2 linked regions of the Homo sapiens genome follow. The protein of the gene in region 1 interacts with the protein of each later gene in a biochemical or structural test. Each region holds a gene or a part of one and is shown on either strand. Other genes may lie near its edges. The genes, in order: MORC3 and ERCC6.

Region 1 (3,818 bases):
GTGAGCCACACCACCGCACTCCAGCCTGGACAACAGAGCAAGACTCCATCTCTATATAAATAAATAATAAAATGTTTATTTCTTACTGTGCCTTATTTATAAGTTGAACTTTATCATACATATGTATACTGCAGTTTTAGGAATCCACTGAGGGTCTTGAGATGCATTCTCTGAGAATAAGGGGAGACTGCTGTACTCCTATCAGTGGAATTATACAATATTTGACTTGTGACTGCCTTATTCATTAATGTCTTCACGGTTCATCCATGTTGTAGTGTGCGTTAGGATTTCCTTGTTTGCTTAAGGTGAATATTTTATTGTATGTCAGAAGACAACATTATAAATTTAAAGATTTTTTTTTTTTTTTGAGACCGAGTCTCGCTCTGTCGCCTAGGCTGGAGTGCATTGGTGCGATCTCGGCTCACTGCAACCTCTGCTTCCCGGGTTTAAGCGATTCTTGTGCCTCAGCCTCCCTAGTAGCTGGGTTTACAGGCACCTGCCACCACGCCCGGCTAATTTTCGTATTTTTAGTAGAGACGGGTTTTGCCATGTTGCCCAGGCTGGTCTTGAACTCTTGACCTCAGGTGATCCGCCCACCTCAGCCTCCCAAAGTGCGGGGGTTACAGCAGGCGTGAGCCAGCGCGCCTGGCCTCAAATTTAAATTTAAAGATATTAATTGGCTTTATTTCTTTTTTTTTTTTTTTTTTTTTTTTTTTGAGACAGACACTCCCAGGCTGGAGTGTAGTGGTGAGATCTCTCAGCTCACTGCAACCTCTTCCTCCCATGTTCAAGCAATTCTCCTGCCACAGCCTCCTGAGTAGCTGGGATTACAGGCGCTCACCACCACACCTGGCTAATTTTTTTGGCTTTTGGTAGAGACGGGGTTTTGCCATGTTGGCCAGGCTCGTCTCCTAACCTCAAGTGTTCTGCCCGCCTCAGCCTCCCAAAGTGCTGGGATTACAGGAGTGAACCACCGTGCTTGGCCTTTATTTCCTATTCTGGAATTGGGCAACACTTCTTCCATAAAATACAGTAAGTGTTCTAGTGAACTGAACAGAGGAGGCTGGCTTTGTAGACAGAAAAAGGCCGAAAGAAAGCAGAAACAAAGAACAAAAAGCAGATACGTCATTTCAAAGTTAAAAACAATAGATAAATAACTGACTGACATTAGGTTACTTTTTGTTGTAAAACAACAAAATGGAGGGAACTTATTATCTGTCATACCAGTTGATGACTGAAACTGACCTGTTCGGTAAATTGGCTGTTATCTCCCTTGATTTCGCTGAAGGTCAGATAACAACTTAGTTTCAGTTTGGTGACTGAAATTTTAGCATGGGTGACTCCATTTTGATTTTTAGTCTGTTTTTGGAGGCCTAGAGCAGGAGCTTAGTCCAAAACAGTGGCCTCCTTTTTTGTTTTTTTTTTTCTGAGACAGAGTCTTGTTCTGTTGCCCAGTCTGGAGTGCAGTGGCATGATCTTGGCTCACTGCAACCTCTGCCTCCTGGGTTCAAGTGATTGCCATGCCTCAGCCACCCAAGTAGCTGGGATTACAGGTGTGTGCCACCAGGTCTAGCTAATTTTTGTATTTTTAGTAGAGACGGGGTTTCACCATGTTGGCCAGGCTGGTCTCAAACACCTGACGTCAAATGATCCACCTGCCGCGGCCTCCCAAAGTCCTGGGATTATAGGTGTGAGCCACCACGCCCAGCTGTCCTATATTTTTTATTTCACATTTACATACATTTGATATGATCAAAAATGTATATTTGTTCTTTGTCCTGGTTCTTGGCACTGGAGTTCCTGAAATCTTTGGTATTTCCTGATAACTATGAGTGGAACATCTTTTGTTATTTATAATAATAAGCCCCCCCCCGCCTTTTTTTTTTTTTTTTTTAACCACACCTTAGTTCATGCTCCCTCTGTCGCCCAGGCTGGAGTGCAGTGGCGCCATCGCAGTCTCCACCTACTGGGTTCAAGTGATTCTCCCGCTTCAGCCTCCCCAGTAGCTGGGACACAGGCGCGCACCACCACGCCTGGATATTTTTTGTATTTTTAGTAGAGACAAGGTTTCGCCATGTTGGCCAGGCTGGTCTTGAACTCCTAACCTCAGTTGACCTACTCACCTCGGCTTCCCAAAGTGGTGGGATTACAGGCATGAGCCACCGCGCCTGGCCAATTTTTTGTATTTTTAATAGAGACAGGGTTTCACCATGTCAACGAGGCTGGTCTTGTACTCCTGACCTCTGGTGATCCACTTGCCTCAGCCTCCCAAAGTGCTGGGATTACAGGTGTGAGCCACTGGGCCCAGTCTGTAATATCCTTTACATTGTATCTTTTAGCTTCCCTGGGCCACATTGGAAGAATTGTCTTGGGCCACATTGGAAGAAGAATTGTCTTGGGCCACACACACATAAAATATACTAACGATAGCTGATGAGGTAAAAAAAAAAAAAAGAAAAAGAAATTGTAACGATAGCTGATGAACTACAACAACAACAAAAAAAATCACGAAAGAAACTTCATAACGTTTTAAGAAAGTTTACAGGCCGGGCAGGGTGGCTCATGCCTGTAATCCCAGCACTTTGGGAGGCCGAGGTGGGCGGATCGCCTGAGGTCGGCAGTTCGAGACCAGCGTGGCCAGCATGGTGAAATCATGTCTCTACCAAAAATACAAAAAAATTAGCTGGGCGTGGTGGCAGTTGCCTGTAATCTCAGCTACTTGGGAAGCTGTGGCAGGAGAATCGCTTGAACCCGGGAGGCAGAGGTTGCAGTGAGCCGAGATTATGTCATTGCACTCCAGCCTGGGCAACAGAGCGAGACTCCATCTCAAAAACAAAAAAAAAAAAAGAAAGTTTACAAATTTGTGTTGGGCTGCATTCAAAGCTGTCCTGGGCCACATGCATCCCATGGGGGCTGAGGGTTGGACAGGCTTGCTTTACAATGAATCAGTGTTTTTTTTGGGTTTTGTGAGCATTATAGCACATTATCAAACATGAGGGGAATCATGTGAATGCCCAATTTATGGTTGGTCTGTCAGAAGTACAGGAGACTAAGGGTTTATAGTAGTTGACTAATTTCTCCTTGTTTGGTAGTATAAACCAAAAATAAAATTCTAAGGCTCTTCCAACCATTTTAATGGACTTCCTTCTCAGCCAGGGCACTCTTAACATTTAATCTGAAAGACTAGTTCAGGCCATGACAGGAAGTTGGGGTCAGACCTGCTTCATTATACTGCTCTGGCGTAACATCACATAACAAGGAAAGAAATAAAAATAATTCTAAATAGATTTCCTTGTCATATCTTGAAATTGCCTTGCAAAGTTTGTCTCTTGTGGAAAAAAATGTACATTGTGTAGAGAATCCTCTTTTCCCTTTTTTCTTTTCTTTTTTTGTTTTTTTTTGTTTTTGTTTTTGAGACGGAGTTTCGCTCTTGTTGCCCAGATTGGAGTGCAATGACCTGATCTCAGCTCACTGTAACCTCCGCCTCCTGAGTTCAAGCAACTCTCCTGCCTCAACCTCCCAAGTAGGTGAGATTACAGGCATGAGCCACCAGGCCCAGCTAATTTTGCATTTTTAGTAAAGATGGGGTTTTATCATGTTGGTCAGGCTGGTCTCAAACTGCTGACCTTGGGTGATCCACCAGCCTTGGCCTCCCAAAGCGCTGGGATTACAGGTGTGAGCCACCAGACCCGTCCTGAGCCACCGCACCTGGCCATTCCCTTTTTTTTTTCTTTCCAGATCCAGGAGATAATCAATTAAGAGTCAGGCACCCTTTTCAGTCTCATAAGAAAACATTTTACAGCCTCTTCTGTCTTATG
Region 2 (3,818 bases), on another chromosome or scaffold:
TTTTATTTTTTCGAGACAGAGTTTCACTCTTGTTGCCCAGGCTGGAGTTCTGCGGTGTGATCTCAGCTCACTGCAACCTCTGCCTCCTGGGTTCAAGCGATTCTCGTGCCTCAGCCTCCCGAGTAGCTGGGATTACAGGCATGCACCACCACGCCTGGCTAATTTTTGTATTTTAGTAGAGATGGGGTTTCACCATGTTGGGTCAGGCTGGTCACGAACTCAGGTGATCCACCCGCCTTGGCCTCCCAAAGTGCTGGGATTACAGGTGTGAGCCACCAAGCCTGGCCTGAAACTTCTTTTACCAAGGTAAATGGTGACCCATTGGTATCCAAATTCACTCAGCCTTTTCTCATTCACTGGACGCTCTTCCTCCTTTTTTATTATTAGAAGTTTTCCCCAAACTTCTTTATTTTTAACCTTGTCTTTACACTACAATACTATTGCTTTTTGATATTATTTTACAGAAATAGAAAAATGGTTACTTAATATTTTTGGTTGAATTGGCATCCTTTTTTCTTAAAAAGAAATCCTCATGTGTGTACAAATAAGAAAAATGAAAACAGAATTGTTAACTGCCAGCTAGTACAGACACTCTGAGCTGGAATCCTGCTCTCTCTGTTGGAAAGTGAGGTGAGCTGAGCCTTCCTCTTGAAAATAATCAGCAGGCCCCAAAAGAAGGAACTTTCTCACTGTGTTGTTCACTTTTTAACCTTTCCAATGTTAGCCTCCTCGTACCCTCCAAAATGACCTTAGGTACCTGTCAGAGCCTTGGGAACCCTGGAACTGCTCACTCTGCTGATGTGTCCACATGTCACCCAGACTTTCCCTTGAGCTCAGATTTGCATTTCTGACTGCATGCTGCAAATGGTACTGATTACATGTAAGCTGCTTGCCAGTCCTGCTTCCTATCTGCTTCCTTTTTGAGAGTCTCATTTTTGTGACTGAATTCACTGGTGACTCATTTGTCCAGACCAAACTTTTTATTATTTTAGACTTAGCTCTGAACCTCACTTCCTTTCAGCAGATATTGAGCACCTCCTATATATCAGACCATGCATGGCCCATGTGTTCAAATCTCAGTTCCTCCGTGATATTTCTTGGGCCCCAGACACCATATATAGTTCGCTCGATGCTCGTGTGACCTCTTGTCCGTGTCCCGGGCTAGCTGACCTGCCCTGCTCTGTTGTTAACTGACATGCTGCTGCTCCAGTGGATAGCCACTCGGGTGTAGATGATGCTGAATTCTTTGTATCCCGGTGCTTTATTGCTGGGCTTATTTTACTTAATAAGGGATGAGTGGGGCCCACTGGGGGAACTTGTCATTTAACAGAAAAGTTACAGTGCTCAAAGAAATCTTATTCACAGTTAAACAAAAAGCAAGACTGATTTTTGGTTATCGTTTTGCTTTTTAATATATTTATTAGATGTGATAGTTGTATAGGTAATATAGTGAATATATTCTCCTTAAAGCAGCAGGTCCTGAGTATGTGGAGTACAATGTGAACATTCCCCCTTATTTTTCCCTGTGCTTTCTCTTCCCCATCCTGATTTGCAGGCTTAGTTTGTATCCTGCCAGATCATTCTGTGTGCAGGATAGATACTTTTTTCAGCATAAGTGTGTTCATACCATGAATTTTTTCACTTAACATGGCTTTTATATCAGTATACAGAATATACTTAGTAGTTACATTAAACTATTAAAAATGTGCTGCACTAAACATTCTTGCACCTGTGTGTGACTAGTTCTCTGGAATAAATACCTAGAATTGCTTGACAAAGGTCATGTGCCTTTAATTTAATAGATATTGCTAAGTTGTCCCTACAAGGGGCTTTACTAATTTATATTCTCAGCAGCACTATGTGAGGGGGGATCCTTCTCCTTGTCTGTATTGGATTTATCTATCAGGCTTTGAATTCTTGCTAACCTGATGGGTGAGAAATTATACTGTGTATTAAAATGGAGTTTTTTTTTTGTTTTTTTTTTTTTTTTTTTTTGAGATTGAGTCTCACTCTGTTGCCTATGCTGGAATGCAGTGGTGAGATCTCATCTCACTGCAACCTCCGCCTCCTGGGTTCAAGTGATTCTCCTGCTTCAGCCTCCCGAGTGGCTGGGATTACAGGTGCTCACCATCATACCCAGCCAATTATTGTATTTTTAGTAGAGATCGGGTTTCACCATGTTTGCCAGGCTGGTCTCAAACACCTGACCTTAAGTAATCTGCCCGCTTCAGCCTCCCAAAGTGTTGGGATTACAGATGTGAGCCATCGTGCCCAGCCTATTTTTGAGAATATTTTAATTAATCTTTTAAAAAAACTTTAAATTTATTTTACAAGGTCTTGCTCTTTTGCCCAGGCTAGAGTGCAGTTGTGCAATCATGGCTCACTGCAGCCTCCATCTCCCAGGCTCAAGTGATCCTCCTGCCTCAGCCCCTTGAGTAACTGGGACTATAGGTGCACATCACCAGGCCTGGCTAAGGTTTTAAATTTTTAGTAGAGACAAGGTCTCATTATCTTTCCCAGGCTGGTCTCGAAGTCCTGAGCTCGCTGTGTTTCCCTGGCTGGTCTCTATCCTCCCGCTTTGGCCTCCCAAAGTGCTGGGATTACAGGACTGAGCCACGTGCCTGGCCTAATTAATCTTCTGAGCTTCTGATTTGTTCAAAGCTCCTATTTACTGGATAGGTATTCAGCCTAGGAGTTTCTAGTCTCAGATTCACACAGAAGCTCTTTCCTAACATCGCTGTTCCTATGCATTACAGTTGATCTTGCCACTATATTATAAATCATTTGTGTCATAATGAAATGAAGATGCTAACTTGGAAAACAGCAGCCAAATGACTTCAGCTGTTTTGAAGAATATTCCATGGCCATCACCCCAGGATTTTGGTGGCTGGCTTTCTTAGCTGGCTGCCTAAATGTCCTTTGTTGATGATACTGCATTTCTTTTTCTGGTTAATTTTTCTTATTTATTATCAGAACTCAAGAAGATACGTTGTCCCTTTTTAGTAAATTAATACTTGGAAACTTGAATTTATGTAGTTGGAAGATTATTACTTGATCTTTTGAGAAATCAGTCTGCTCTAATTATAAAATATTTAAGAACTACAATGAATCCTATATAACGAAAAGGCTTATAAATTTTTTTCCTTTTAGGTAGTCTGTAGAGAATGCCAAATGAGGGAATCCCCCACTCAAGTCAAACTCAGGAGCAAGACTGTTTACAGAGTCAACCTGTCAGTAATAATGAAGAAATGGCAATCAAGCAAGAAAGTGGTGGTGATGGGGAGGTGGAGGAGTACCTCTCCTTTCGTTCTGTGGGTGACGGGCTGTCCACCTCTGCTGTGGGGTGCGCATCAGCAGCTCCGAGGAGAGGGCCAGCCCTGCTGCACATCGACCGACATCAGATCCAGGCAGTAGAGCCTAGCGCCCAGGCCCTTGAGCTGCAGGGTTTGGGTGTGGACGTCTATGACCAGGACGTGCTGGAACAGGGAGTGCTTCAGCAGGTGGACAATGCCATCCATGAGGCCAGCCGTGCCTCCCAGCTCGTTGACGTGGAGAAGGAGTATCGGTCGGTCCTGGATGACCTCACGTGAGTGCAGCCCATCTTCTTCCTTTCAAAGTGGTGGTAAAACATGACAGGGATATTCAGGTAATGGAAAGCTCTAGTATTCCAGAAGTTTAGGAGATGTGTAGAACCTTTTATTTGGAGGACAGAGTCAATAAGGGCAGTCCTCAACCTCATCTTTGAGTCCCAGCCCTTCCCCTTAGGAGTGGCATTGTACATGGTAGTTAGAGTCTCTGTCCAGCTCGTGAAAGCCAGT

What was found.
Region 2: the proteins of MORC3 (region 1) and ERCC6 form a complex in vitro, tested with the Homo sapiens proteins (one large-scale study listed by BioGRID).

Annotation. Positions count from the first base shown.
Region 1 is NC_000021.9:36,326,467-36,330,284, forward strand, and holds part of MORC3 (MORC family CW-type zinc finger protein 3), read left to right. Parts: intron 1-3,441; exon of another isoform or gene 3,442-3,527; intron 3,528-3,818.
Region 2 is NC_000010.11:49,532,311-49,536,128, reverse strand, and holds part of ERCC6 (DNA excision repair protein ERCC-6), read left to right. Parts: intron 1-3,150; 5' UTR 3,151-3,164; coding exon 3,165-3,586; intron 3,587-3,818. UniProt on the Homo sapiens protein: Involved in repair of DNA damage following UV irradiation, acting either in the absence of ERCC6 or synergistically with ERCC6. Involved in the regulation of gene expression.